Linked DNA regions of Homo sapiens. The protein of the gene in region 2 interacts with the protein of the main gene of each other region in a biochemical or structural test. Each region holds a gene or a part of one and is shown on either strand. Other genes may lie near its edges.

The links. Proteins that work in one complex are often made in the same cells at the same time.
Region 1: the proteins of PPP3CB (region 2) and IRF2 form a complex in vitro, tested with the Homo sapiens proteins (one study listed by BioGRID).

Annotation. Positions count from the first base shown.
Region 1 is NC_000004.12:184,415,551-184,423,060, forward strand, and holds part of IRF2 (interferon regulatory factor 2), read right to left. Parts: intron 4,019-7,510; coding exon 3,919-4,018; intron 3,159-3,918; coding exon 2,982-3,158; intron 2,664-2,981; coding exon 2,617-2,663; intron 1-2,616. UniProt on the Homo sapiens protein: Specifically binds to the upstream regulatory region of type I IFN and IFN-inducible MHC class I genes (the interferon consensus sequence (ICS)) and represses those genes. Also acts as an activator for several genes including H4 and IL7.
Region 2 is NC_000010.11:73,471,637-73,479,656, forward strand, and holds part of PPP3CB (serine/threonine-protein phosphatase 2B catalytic subunit beta isoform), read right to left. Parts: intron 7,882-8,020; coding exon 7,681-7,881; intron 6,988-7,680; coding exon 6,863-6,987; intron 5,576-6,862; coding exon of another isoform or gene 5,522-5,575; intron 3,395-5,521; coding exon 3,283-3,394; intron 1-3,282. UniProt on the Homo sapiens protein: Calcium-dependent, calmodulin-stimulated protein phosphatase which plays an essential role in the transduction of intracellular Ca(2+)-mediated signals.

The DNA of each region.
Region 1 (7,510 bases), on a different chromosome or scaffold from region 2:
GAAAGAGGACATGCCTTTCAATCCATTACGTGTCATGGTTTCATTGCAAGCAGTTTTTCTAAGAGATACATAAAATAACAGTGCATCTTAGCATCATTGGCATCTGGCGTTCGATGGAATACAGTGGGTACATGTGAGCAAAGTGTGTTGAAAAGGCAACATCTGTTACTCCGTTCTTATTTCTCCATTAACTGCGATTATGAAATTAAATCTGCATCCTAATGGAAAACCCCTCACTCCCACCCCACATATCCTACTTATTTATACATCTATTTAGTCAACAAATGCGGATGCATCTATTCAGTTATCAAATACGTATTAGTGATCTGTTCTGGGCCAGGCACTGAGCTAGATAATGGGAAAAGAGTAGTAAATACGATTCAGTCACACTTGAAATTGTAGCAAATTCTCACACATGTGTGAGAAAGCTGTGCTTTTCTGACTAAATAACATGAATCAAAACGTAGGCCTTAAAAATACAAACTCAGCCAGGCTCACACTTGTAATTCCAACATTTTGGGAAGCCGAGGCAAGAGGATTACTTGAGGCCAGGAGTTTGAGACCAGCCTGGGCAACAGAATGAAACCTCACCTCTATAAAAGAAAATTTTTTTAAATTATCCATGCTTGGTGGCACACACCTGTAGACCCAACTACTAGAGGGAGGCTGAGGCGGGAGGATCACCTGAGCCCGGGAGGTTGGGGCTGCAGTGAGCTATGATCGCGTCACTTCACTCCAGCCTGGGTGACAGAGTAAGACCTTGTCTCAAAAAAAAAACAAAAAAAAAAAAAAACGAAAAAAAAAACTGTGAGAAACGATATGGCTAACAACTAGGTTTGTTCAATTGTAAAAAAAAAAAAATGTTTTAAGAGGTAATATAGGAGAAACATATATCCTTAAAAAATACTTAAAAGACATTCAAAAATCACATGTGGATTTTATATGGGTCTTAATTTAAGTAACAAACTACACGAATGTTATAACATGTATGAAACAACTGAAACTCTGACCACTGGCTGGATATTCACTGATATTGAGAAATTACTGTGAACTTTTTCAGGTACAGTAATGACATCATGGTATTTTTACAGAGCACTTATCTTTTAAATATATATACTGAACTATTATGGAAGAAATGCTATGAGGTTTGGAATTTGCTTCAAATTCCAAAAAATAGTTCAAAAAAAAGCTGAACTATAAAAAATTGTTTTGGGGCCGAGTGCCGTGGCTCACGCCTGTATTCCCAGCACTTTGGGAGACTGAGGTGGGCGAATCACTTAAGGTCAGGAGTTCAAGACCAGCCTGTCCAACATGGTGAAACCCCATCTCTACTAAAAATACAAAAATTAGCTGGGCATGGTGGCACGTGTTTGTAGTCTCAGCTACTCGGGAGGTTGAGGCAGGAGAATCGCTTGAACCCAGGAGGCGGAGGTTGCAATGAGCCAAGATCGCGCCATTGCACTCCAGCCTGTGCCAATAGAGCAAAACTCCATCTCAGTTTAAAAAAAATTAAATAAATAAATTACTTCTGTAAGTCAAAAATGGTTGAAGGGCTGCAATTTCATGTTAGAAGTCAGGAAATGGGAGGGGCTATTGATGAAGCAAAACTGGCCAGGAGCTGATTAAGGTTAAAATTAATCTGAATGATGGCCTATGGGGTAAATTTTACTCAACTGTCTCCTTCCTATGTGCATAAAATCTTTCCACAATGAAAAGTTAAAACAAAATTAGGCCTTTAATACAGTACAATATTTAAATTTAGTTAAAAATAAAAACTAGTAAAAGTGAAACTGAAAGCATCACTGCAAAAACACCCTCCGCCTAAATTTCTTCATCTGCAAAGGGAGGCCAGGGAGCTCGACAATCTCTCTGAGATCCCTGGGTCTGTGACCGCAGTGTATGCTCTCTGCTCAGCCACTGAAGCTCGTCCCCAGTTTTGCAGGGCATATTCGGCTCTTCTCTTACTATTTAACAAGGGCCACCTAATCTATGCATAAAGATCCTCAGACTGTAGGGGAGTTCAGACGACACAGCCTAGTGAGAAGCTGACACACACATGCACATCCCATGGAAAACCCTTGTGGGGTGTGAGAGATGATTCTACAGTGGACAGAAGGCAGCCATTGAGAGCTGTTCTGATAGAGTGCTGACATTGACCACTCTGTCCCCCACCAAAGGGCCTGTGACGGAATGTCTGTAACATAGAGTTCATACATTGTATAGAGGTCTATAACATTTAATACATATTAAAGTATACTTAATAGCCTGAAAATATACTTAATAGTATGAGAATAAGCTGTTGTGGAGTTTAGCTGGCACAAAATGACCACTGGCAACGGCTGTGGTGGCCAGATGGAGGCCTCAGCCTGCCGAGCACAGTGAGAATCTGTGACTTCATTCATAAATTTCCCAGAGAAACGGGATGAGGCAGGGCCCTGTGTACCTCCATGTCTGCAAGTGGATACATGCTGAAGAGCAAACATGTAAAGCACAGAAGACACAAGCAAAGGAAGAAAGAGGACACACTGAGGTCCTGTGACTCATCTTTACAAGGCAGAATATGAGTCATTAATAGGATCCCAACTTTGGCTTTCTCTCTGAATCACCCAAGATTACCTTGATGTGCTTAACTTTGTCTTCTTTTTCTGTCTTTGGTTTCTTTCCTGTGGCAACAAAAATGTAGTTTTGGATTAATTCACGAAGGGCCTCCAGAGAAACATTTCCCTCAAATTAAATTCTTTCTGAAACTCTCAATGAACCTGTTGCTTTAATCTGTACATGGTCAAAATTCCACATGTATCTTTCACTGCCTCTGGTGAATCGAAAGTCTTGTTTCCAAGCCAGGTAGGGGCGGAATGATCCCCTACAGCATGAACAGGCTATTCTACCTGCAAACTGACTGCAGATGTAGAAATGAAGAGATCACGAAGGCACGATGACACAAATTGATTTACCTTATTTTAGTCTGTAAATGCCTTTACCTTTCTTAGAAGGCCGTTCTGATAGGGGCAGCATTCGGTAGACCCTGAAGGCATTATTTCCTTTCTTTATGCTTTTATCCTTGACTTCTTCAATATCAGGCAAGGAATTCATGGCGCATCTGAAATTCGCCTTCCATGTTTTGGGATCAGGTTTATCTACTCCTGGTTGATGCTTTCCTAACAAAAGAGACAAAGATTAAGAAAAAGAGAGAAAACATTAGATACAGAGGAAGGAATTTCTGGAAACACAGTATTGCTGGTCAGGCAGTATAAGGAAACCTTTTCACTCCATGCTATACCTCCAGTGACCAATCGTCCTGGTGTACCTGGGGGTGAGAAAGTTCTTGGGATGTGGGAATTTTGTTTTTAAAACCTGAACAGTTCCAGTCAAACTGGGACAAGTTGGTCACCCTGGTTCTACTGAACAGCTTGAGGAAACTATAAATGCTGGAAGAATGGAGCATCAGCGTAAGAAAAATATAGAAGACTGAGAGGCTGCAAAGTCAACAGGCAGAGGGAAGCTGAGTGCCTCTTTTTCATCTGACGCTCCAACAAAGTCCATTCCTGTAAACAGCTCCCTACGTAAAGGTTGTAATAAATACAGGTATTTCTGACTACCTTTTTGGGGGGGAGATAAATTTGACCAAAGTTTATAGCATCAGAACAACTGAGTTTCTATTCCCCGGTAACACCTAGGGAACTTCTTAGAATACCACATTTATAGGAAATTGAAGGACTAAGAGTGTATGGGATGAGGGGAGCATTACTTCTGAGGGCTGCAGTTTGTACCCCATGTGTCCTGGATGTGCCTAGGGACAAGTCACAGGTTTTTCAGAGCCATCTTCATGAGGTCATAAGCCAGGCTATTTTATGTGTAATAAAAACAAAACTAAGCAAGAGTGCCTTCCTCTATAAACGCCGCAGGGAGTTTTAGTACCTGTATGGATTGCCCAGTTTCTAAAGAGTGGTGCATCTTTTTCCACATCCCACCCATGTCTAGCCGCATGCATCCAGGGGATCTGAAAAATCTTCTTTTCCTGAAAAAAAAAAAAAAAAAAAAGGTAAAGAACTGGAGTCATGGGTTTTGGCCCACCATTGCAAAAGGTTGTGAAGGTCTAGCCAGCAAGATTCCCCAGCAAGCATCGCTGAATGTGTTGACTGCTGACAAGAAAATCTACTGTAAACCAAACCCACTTCCCCCGCTGGATCCCAAATCTTGATAGACTACCCCGAGTGACAGTCAGTCTCGTGAAGTCTTGCAGAGCAGGAATGTTTTCCAAGGTCAAAGGTGATGATTTGACCTTGTGTGTTCCATTATTTGTGCCTCTTTTCTAGTTTTCAATATATTTTTTTGGAGACAGAGTCTCGCTCTGTTGCCCAGGCTGCAGTGTAGTGGCGCGATATCGGCTCACTACAACCTCCACCTCCTGGGTTCAAGAGATTCTCCCACCTCAGCCTCCTGAGTAGCTAGGATTACTGGCATGTGCCACCACGCCTGGCCAAGTTTTGTATTTTTGGTAGAGATGGGGTTTTGCCATGCTGGCCAGGCTGGTCTCGAACTCCTGACCTCAAGTGATCTGCCCACCTCAGGCTTCCAAACTGCTGAGATTACAGGTGTGAGCCACCACACCCGGCCCTGTGCCTCTTTTTTTTATAAAACCACAGAAAAATGGCCACCTACCGAAACTTCTAATGCTTACTCTTATAATTTATTCTCGTCGTTTGGTAAATAGTAACTCCAGCTATCTTAGGTAAATTAAAAATTAGACAAGTTTCCAAAACCCTTGATGCTACTAAAGAAAAGTCGGGTACATCTGAGGCCACTGTCACAGAAACCAAATATCTCCATTTGCTTGTGCATCCAACAGAAATAGAAAGTAATGTTCGAATCCCTGTGGGTCTACTGCCTGCAAGAAATAGCAAGAAGTGCAAACAAAGAGGTAGAGGTTATGAAATGACACATTTTTCTGGAGAAACATCCCTCAATACAATCCTTATATCAGACTATCTCTACATCTCTCTCAGTGTTGAGGTCTGTAACTCAAAACCGCCTCAAGCAACCCTGAAAAACACATGATTGGAAACCCATGGTTTAGTAACAAAGCCGTACTCTTAGTAAAGCTACAGATGAGGAACCTGGCCCAAGCAGCTCTTGTGGCGGTACCGGCAGGTACTAAGGTCCCATTGGCACTGTGCATCTGACTACCCACATCCACAGGGACCTCAGTTTTGTCTTCCTCCCACAGCCTACTGAGTGAGGTATATGTTACGATTTCCATTTTATAGCTGAGGAAACCAAGAAGCAGATTTTAACTATTTAGTCAAGGAACTTGCAGGATAATAAGTGTCTAAGTTCAAAACCCAGGTCATGCGACTCCATATGCTATTACTTAATCACCCACTCATTGTCTCCCAGCTTTTAGATTTGGAAGAGTCCCTGTCCTATGACAGACCAGTTGAGACCTGGATTCTGTGGAGATTAAAGCCCAGGAGGTTGTACTCTTTCAAAGCTCTCAAGGCAGTTCTGGTAATTGCTAGGTATGCGGATCCCTGCACTAGATGCTGAGGAAGGAGAGGAAATGTCAGCAGGGAGTTTCCACCACTTCAGTCTCACATAGTGAAACACAGAAAGGGTCCCAGCTGTCCCCAAAGAGATTCAGCGCCTCTCCACAGAACCAATCACAAAGCCAGAACAAAGACTATTTCAGAACATTGGAGAGTTTCCCAAAACCTGTTAAAAGGAAAATTCTACCATCTTCTAAAAAGTCAGTTATTAAAGGAGAACTGAAAGTGAGAGACTTTTTCATAAATTCCTCGGTGTTCATTCTGTATCATCCACAGAGAGGGCTTCGGGTTAGCCAATTTCAAAAGGACAGTGATCAGAAAGGGGCTGAGTGACATTTTATGCTTTAATGTAGATGAAAATCGACAGCAAAATCACTTAATGCCATTTATTGATGTTCACATGAAAATGAATACAAGTGAAAATTCATTTCGTGAAAGAGCTTTTCCTGAAGTGCATGCCCAGAATCTAAAGCTTTATGCTTAAACACCGAGATTCTTAAGAATTTGCTGTTGCACTTTTTTCTAGATCAAAGGAGTTCTAGGGTGACACAATCTGAAATCTAACTTGCAAGACACAAAATTGATACAGATAAAGTAGATCTTTTTAAGCATCTGCACGCATGCATGCATACACATACACACACACACAACCAAACCTAGTCCCACAGAAACCGCAAAAGCCATGCAACTACAAAAGCGCTGACCAAACCCAGCAACATACACTATGGACCCTCTTGAAATGTGCAACAGGCCTGAGTAGACTGGAATAGTTCAGGTGTTTGTCCCCTCAAAATCTCGTGTTAAAATTTGATCGCTAGTGTTGCAGGTGGGGTCTGGTGGACGGTGTTTGGGTCATGGGGCAGGATCCCTCAAGAATGGCTTGGTGTCGTTCTCGTGGTAATGAGTAAGCTCTCACTCCATTAGCTCCGGTGAGAGCTGATTATTCAAAACAGCCTGTCGCCTGCACCATTCTCTCTTCCTCCCTCTCTTGCCATGTAATGCCCTTTGCCTCCCATCCTGAGGCCTTAACAGAGGCAGATGCCAAGGTCATGCTTCTTGTACAGCCTAGAACCCTGACCCAAAGAAGCCTCGTTTTTTTATAAATTACCCAGCCCCAGGTAGTCCTTTGTAGCAACATGAAACAGACTAACCCACAGACATGTCTCCAAAAAAAGATACACAAATAACAAACGTTGGTGAGGATGTGGAGAAACTGGAATCCTCACACATCGCTGTGGAAATGCAAAATGGTACAGCCACTCTGGAGAAAAAGTTTGGCCATTCCTCAAGAAAGTGAAACACAGAATTACCTGATGATCCAGGAATTTTACACCTGGATATATACCCAAAGAATTCTAAGCCAACATTCAAACCAAAACATAAACGTTCATAGCAGCACTACTTTCAAAAGCCAAAAGATGGAAACAACCCGAGTGTCCATCAGCTGATGAATGGGTAAACAAAATGTGGTATATCCATACAATGGAATATTATTCAGCCACAAAAAGGAATAGAGTATTGACACATGCTACCATGTGGACGAACCTTGAAAACATTATGCTGGATGAAAGAAGCCAGACACAAAAGGCCAAAAATTGAATGATTCCATTTACATGAAATATTCCAGAAAAGACAGAGAGCAGAGAGCAGACAGAGAGCAGAGATCCATAGAGACAGAGAGCAGATTACTGGTTGCCACAAGCTAGGGGGGAGGGAAATGGGAAGTGACTGATTAATGGGTACAGCATTTCCTTTTGGAGGGATAAAAAGTTCTGGAACTGGACAGTGGTGATGGCTGCATGACATCGTGAATGTCACTTTAAAATGGTAAATATTTTTTAAACTACATGTCACCTTTACCTAGTTTTTCATACTTCAGGAAAAAAAAGAAAAGACTAATAAACTTATCAGAAATATCTTTAAAATTGTATCACAGATTCTTTTTTTGAAGAAGACCATATGAA
Region 2 (8,020 bases):
AAAATTACATTACTGGTGGTGGTGTGACCATTTTAAAAACATATATATTAGATTTTTATTTCTTGTTCTCTCCCCTCCTTTATATCTTATAGCTATTTATAATGAAATTGAGATAGTTACAGTTTCAACTGTAGTAATAGCCCAGACAGACAGACAGACAGATGGCAAGAAAATTATAGACAGTAAACAGCAAAGTGGTGGCCAGGGCTTCAGAGTGAGTGAAGGGGTGACTATAAAAAGGTAGCAAGAGAGAACTTATGGCATGATAAAACTTTTCTGTATCATGATAGTGGTAGTGGGCAACTCTATGCAGTGTCAAAAGTCACAGAAGTAAATACCACAGAGAATAAATCTTACTGCACACAATTTTTTTAAGGAAAGCATCTTCCCCTATAAGAATCAACAAAAATATGCAAAGTTATCTGTCTTATGAAGACAAAATATTTGCTCTCTCTAAAATTATTCTCGATGATGTTATGTCTTATGAAGCAAAATATTTGCTCTCTAAAATTATTTTGGATGACAGAAAAGTCATCACGTATTGTTAAAAATAAGTCAGTCAAATCTCTAAAAACAGGCCAGGCACGGTGGCTCACGCCTGTAATCCCAGCACTTTGACAGGCCAAAGCAGGCAGATCGCTTGAGGCCAGGAGTTTGAGACCAGTCTGGCCAACATGGCAGAACACTGTCTCTACTAAAAATACAAAAATTAGCCAGGCATGCTGGTGTGCACCTGTAATCCCAGAGACTCAATGGGTGAGGAACAAGAATCACTTGAACCCAGGAGGTGGAGGCTGCAGTGGGCCGAGATCGTGCCACTTGCACTCCAGCCTGGGCGACAGAGCAAGACTCTGTCTCAAAAAAAAAAAAAAAAGAAAGAAATCTCTTAAAAACAGCTCAACCCTTCACCTTTATCGGCCAAATAAGGCAAAATTAGAACTGTACTTGAGGTTAAAATCATTTTAATACTTGCTTTATTTTATTCTAAGAGTCAATGACTACTTTATTCTTATTACAGGCAAGATGACTACATCATCACAACAAAATTCAAGGTTCATCCATTTTTTCTGAAAAATAAAAGATAATAGCATGCTCATGTCAGAAAAGCTGAGGGGTTCCTCTTGCCTACAATGAATACTTTAAAATGGGCAGTGAAGCAGGAAGCCAATATAGAAACACAAGAAAGACAAAACTCTACCAAATCAAACTATCATTTACTTTTAGAGAGATATCATGCACTTTCATTTGCTCCTTTACAACTTTAAATTCCTATTTTGGTTTTGATGAGATTTTGGTAGGTGGTTTGTTATTTATCTAGGCAAAGAAAAAGAACTTAGTTCCTATTTCCTGTTTTAATACTGTAATATTCAAATATTAAAAAAACTATATATATATCCAGCAACCAGAGATTCTACACTGGCAGTCTGCTAACGACTCTGTTTTCTAGCACTGTGGTTTAATAAAAATTCTAATTTGACTGCTTTTAGGTCAAGCATGCACTTTCCAGGTCTTATCTTACTCATTTAGGTTAACTGCCTGATCCTTGAAGTTATAAGAGTATGCCACTTCTGCCACTACCCATCACTGTATTTTTCTCCTGTTGCTGCAAGTCTCTACTTAGTATGACCTTTATTGGATCATGTTTTGAGTCTCAAAACGTTGAAATTATTTCTGCTTTTAGAATTTAACTCTACTTAATACAGTCATAAATATTAACTTAAAAAGCACAAAGGCAGGCCAGATGCGGTGGTTCACACCTGTAATCCCAGCACTTTGGGAGGACGAGGCAGGTGGATTACTTGAGGTCAGGAGTTAAGAGACCAGCCTGGCCAACATGGTGAAACACCGCCTCTACCAAAAATACAAAAATTAGCAGGACGTGGTGGCGCATGCCTGTAATTTCAGCTACTTGGGAGGCTAAGGCAGGAGAATACTTGAACCCGGGAGGAGGTTGCTGTGAGCCGAGATTGTACCACTGCACTCCAGCCAGGGCGACAGAGCGAGACTGTCTCAAAAAAAAAATAAAAATAACAAAAATAATAAAAAAGCACAAAGGTTTGAGGTGTGAAAAAGGCCTAATCTTGTTCTGTAACATATGGTTACTTACAGGTATTAGATTACCATTGCTATAATAATTTGAGAGAGAAAAGGGATAAACATTGCAGGTTAAGAATTTCACCAACTGTACCTGACTAGTCTTAAAACAATGATATTTAAAAAAACAAAAAAATTTTAAGAAGAATTTCAATCATTAATAGCATGATTGAAATGATCTGCAATGGTAACAGGATAAACAATTTGTTAGGATTCCTCACAGGAATGCCTCAAGATTGAAGGACAAAAATCTCCAATGCAAAATAACATTTTTTTCTTTTGGTTTTTATTTTTTCCTGTTAGAAAAAATATATACATTTTTTTTTCCTGAGACAGAGTTTCGCTCTTGTTGCCCAGGCTGGAGTACAATGGCGCGATCTCGGCTCACTGCAACCTCCGCCTCCCAGGTTCAAGTGATTCTCCTGCCTCAGCCTCCTGAGTACCTGGGATTACAGGCACATGTCACCACGCCTGGCTAATTTTTGTATTTTTAGGAGATGGGGTTTTGCCGTGTTGGCCAGGCTGGTCTTGAACTCCTGACCTCAGGTGATCCACCCGCCTCGGCCTCCCAAAGTGCTGGGATTACAAGCGTGAGCTACCGTGCCTGGCTTAGAAAAATTAATTGTAACATTAAAACTTATATATAAAACTCTAAGTATGTTTGTAAAAGTTAAACATAATAAGAAATTCTGAAATGAAAAAAAATTTTTTTTTTTGAGACAGGGTCTGACTCTATTGCCCAGGCAATTGTCCGTGCAGTGGCATGATCTCAGCTCACTATGACCTCCGATTCCCAGGCTCAAGCGATCCTCCCACCTCAGCCTCCTGAGCAGCTGGGACTACAAGAGTGTGCCGCCACACCCAGCTAATTTTTTTTTTTTGTATTTTTGGTGGAGATGGGGTTTCACCATGTTGGCCAGGCTGGTCTCCAACTCCTGAGCTCAGGCAATCCCCCTGCCTGGGCCTCCCAAAGTGCTGGGATTACAGGCGTGAACCACCATGCCCCACCAAAAACTTCTTAATACCATTAAACACCAGAGAGTGCTCGACAACTTTCCTCAAAGCTTTATGTGTGGACATGAAATCTGTCCTTACATGTTGCACTGTAAAGTCTTCAAAACTCTTACTACCCACTTAAGTCCAAAAGAATACTGAGGAAGTGAAAACATTTCTTCTGGCAGTACTCACATTCCTGCTTAAAGGTAAAATATTCAGTAAGGTGTCTGCATTCATGGTTGCCTCTCAGAAGAAATAATGTGCTTGGGTATAGAATCTTCAGAACCCATAAATATAAGACACACTGCAAAAGAAAATTTTTCTAGTGAATTTATCTTGTACTTTTGTTTAATGAAGCTGCTTGATCTTTGCTCCTTTTCCTCTACTACCCTTACCATCCTCTATTATCTTTCTTTGTCCCTTACTAAAATATAAGCACCACAAAATCACAGATTTTGTCATCTTATTCACTTTTGATTCTCCACTCCCAGAAGAGTACCTAGCAAATAGGAGAAGAGCAATAAATATTTGTTGAATGAATGAGTCAAACAATCTATTTAATTACTTTGGATTTACAGACTGCCCAATATAAAAACAATTAGCACACTGGTCTACAGATGCGTATTAGTAAATAATACTGTCAAAATAACAGCAGCTAACATTTATTAAGTACTTACAATATGTGAAGCACTATATAATTCCCCTAATTTATTCCTCAAACAACACTATGAAGTATGTAATATCATCTTTATTTTACAAATGAGAAACTGAAGCAAAGATCTCAAGTAACTTGTCCAAAACCACAAAACTTCTAAGTGATGGAGATAGGATTCTGATCCTCTGATCTTAAGCATTATGCCATGCTGCCCATGAAGGGAAGGTCCATGTTTTATGTTTGTTTCATTGATTATGAATATTGCCTTACATATGGTAAGTGCTTATTATCTGAACTAATTCAATGCAAATGTAATTTTTCAAATAAAAATATTATTAAACATTATAGCAGATGCTATTCTCTAAATAGATTTAACATAAGAAAGAGACTCACATTTTACTTATTTGCTTAAAAAAGGAAGAAATATTTGATATGGAAATAAGCATGGTTTATATAATCATATGCAAAAAGAAAAAACAAACTTTTTTATTTTTAGAGACAAGGTCTCACTGTCACCCAGGTTGGAGTGCAATGGCACAATTACTGCTCACTGCAGCCTCGACCTTCTGGGCTCAAGAAATCCTCCTACCTCAGTCTCTTGAGCAGCTGGGACTACAGGCACATGCCACCAGGCCCAGCTAAGTTTTTTTTTTTTTTTTTGTGGAGACAGGGTTTCACCATGTTTCCCTGGCTGGTCTCGAACTCCCAGGTTCAAGCAATCTGCCTGACTTGGCCAACCTGTGCTGCGATTACAGGTGTGAGCCACCACACCCAACAAAACTTTATTGTTAATAAATTAAGGTATATCTAAACATGTAACTATTCATATCCTTCATTTTATTCAAAAGGGAAAAAAGTAATAAAATCAGGGAAATAATCTGTTCTCGATGCTTATTTTGATTCTTTGTTATTTTCCTTTTATAACAACAAAATGTATTAAAGGAGTCAGCTACATCCAGGCGCAGTGGCTCACGCCTGTAATCCCAGCACTTCGGGAGGCCGAGGCAGGCAGATCACCTGAGGCCAGGAGTTCGAGATCAGCTTGACCAACATGGCGAAACTCCATCTCTATTAAAAATACAAAAACTAGCCGGGAGTGGTGGTGGGCACCTGTAATCCCAACTACTTGGGAGGCTGAGGCAGGAGAATCTCTTGAACCTGGGAGGCAGAGGTTGCAGTGAGCCGAGATCACGCCACTACACTCCAGCCTGGGCGACAGAGTGAGAGTCCATCTCAATTAAAAAAAAAAAAAAAAAGAGTCAGCTGCAAAACAATCTTACACAAGGACATGCACACCAACTTAGTTACCAAATAAGCTTCATAAAACTGTTTATTTTATTGTTTTGGTCAAATGCCTGAAATTTTTTTGTTAAAATGGGCCATTTTCTGATTTGCCTGAAGCCCTGTGACAATTTGGGAAAAGTTGACGAGGCTAATAATCAACTATCAGCAGGAGGAAGAAGAACTCAAAATAGCAAAATTCCTAAGGGAAGCAGGACAGACAGAGTCTAGAACTTCCTTCCACTCTGAGAATCCTAGCACACCTCAGAAAAAAAGGTATATTGGAAACACTGGAGAAGGAGATATAAACAACAGTAACCAACATAAATTCACCAGGTAAGGTTTCAGTATCTACTAGGGAAGGTGGTTAAAAGCATATGCTGGGAGTCACATTGCCTGGCTATGCTGTTTACTAATAATACCTTGGGCAAGTTACTTAACCTCTCTAAGCCTCAGGTTCCTCATCTATAAAATGAATAAAACAACAGTACTTACCTCATTAATATTATTGTGAGGATTAATCGATATGTCTTCAGTGCCTAGAACATGCTTAGAACATATTAAATGTGCAACACAGGTATCTATTGGTAGAAATTTGACCCCACAATTCTACCTCTAGGAATTTGTCCTACAAAAATAATCAGGCAAGTATGTAAAGATGTATGAATAATATGACTCATTAAAGCATCATTTGTAAAGAAAAAAACTGGGAACATCTTCAGTGTCTAACACAAGGAATTAATTAATTATGGTTTGTTTATTAGATGGAAAACAATGTAGATATTAAAATGATGCTACGAGTTTATATTTACTGACTTGGAAGGATATTTGGTGTAGGCATGTATGAAAAAGCAAGTTACAGACAATATTATAATATGATCCCCTTTTCATTAAAAAAAGAAAAAATGTATATATTGGAAAATACATATTGTTCTACATTTGCTGCATTTTGTTTATATAATTTAAAAAGATGGCAGGGCAATGTGGCTCACATCTGTAATCTCAACACTTTGGGAGTCCAAGGCAGGAGGATCACTTGAGCCCAGGAGTTCAAGACCAGCCTGGGCAACATAGGAAACTCCATTGCTACAAAAAAATTAAAAATTAGTCTAGGCATGGTGGTGTGTACCTGTGGTCCCAGCTATTTGAGAGACTGGGACAGAAGGATCCCTTAAGCTCAAGAGGTCAAGGCTACATTGAGCCATGCTGGTGCCACTGTACTCCAGCATGGGCCACAGAGTAAGACCCTGTCTCAAAAAAAAAGAAAAAGAAAAGAGAAAAAGGAAGAAAAGGAACCATCTACTGTTAAGTGATAATCAAAAGGTCATTTTAATGCCTCAAGTTTTTAAAAACAAATTAATACTTTCCAAATACACAAAGATTCCATAGGATATACTTGAGTCTTAATAGCTACACAAGGAGAAACAGAAGCACTAGGGCTCAAGCAATAAAAAAATCACAATATACTTTATTTAATCAGACAGAATTCAAGTAATCTTTTTTCACATGGTTTAATGCCTTTAGGGGCAAGAGAGATAAATAGCACTAAATTTTTAAGGCCACTAGTTAACAGGGCAATAAAGACCCCTCAGTCAGCTCATAAATTCCACTGGGAAAAAAATGGCAATTATAATTATATAAACAGAGTTATACAAAGAAATTTATTTGAATTGTTTGAAAGACAGAACAGGAATAAATAGTAGCTTTTCATAAAAACTTCAGAATATGCAGAGTTATTAAAAAAACCTAACACAGGTACTTGTGAAAACTAGGATTAAGTGAAAGCATCTGTGTTAACACTTAACAGCAAATCAAATGACAGTTTATGATTATTACCTCTATACTAAAATAACCTCTGTCCACATAATCGCCAAGAAAAAGGTATCGTGTATTAGCAGGTGATCCTCCTACTTCAAAAAGTTTCATCAGATCAAAAAATTGGCCATGGATGTCACCACACACTGAAACAAGAAGATTATTAGATAAGGGAAAAAAATCTCTAAAACAACAAATTTTACTTAAGTTAAAACGTATTTTACATAAGACATAGTACAAATGCTATCAAGAAATGTCTGAGAAGGAAGTAGTCTATGAACAGTCATGATTAGGATGATGTGTAACCAAGTGTTCATGTGCTCAAGATCTAGAAAAAGATGTAACAGAAATAACGAAATTTGTGGTCAGTGACAAACTGAAATCTACATTTATAAAGATCGTCTCTAGGACTCCAAGGATGTGTTTTAAGTTTCAAGATGACAAAATTACAATGGTGGCAGTTAAAATATCCATTCTAACTCAATACTTTCTGTTGCTCTCTAAATGGTCACTTTTGGTATCTGATATGACATCAAGGTATTTGACCCTAACAATTGAAAGCAAAGTAAGTATTGATCAAATTGAAGTATGGTCAACACAATTGATGAAACCTTCACAAAAGCATATTAGACTAACTTCTACACTCAGATTATTTAGAATCATGTCTATTCACTGAAAACAGGCAATCATTTTTAAGTATGGAAAATAATTTGAAATTCAAGATAATGTCCAAGTAATATTGATTTAGCATACAGTATCATTGAAAACAGTAAGTTGTAAATCCAGGCAACTAAATAATGACATAATAAAAATAATACCCAAAACATGAATAAGCTTACCTGTGATTGGAGCTTCTACTTCTATCATGGTTTTCTCTCTCCGAAGGATGGCAGCACCCTCATTGATAATTCTAAGCGCAATTTCTTCATCTACTCGACCTTCTTTCACCAAGTGGTTCTTCAGAACATCAACCCTGGGTATCCCATCCAAATCAAATACTTCTTCAGATGTCAAGCGATGTGTTGGGGGGAAAGGGACAGCTGCAAATGTTTTTAATTAATAAAAGATAAGTCACCAAAAATACATTAACTTAAAAACTAATAATTGGATCTAGATAAGACTAAAAACTGTAAAGCAGGGATTTTTCTTTCTTCTTCATTTATTGGGTAGAAGTGTTTT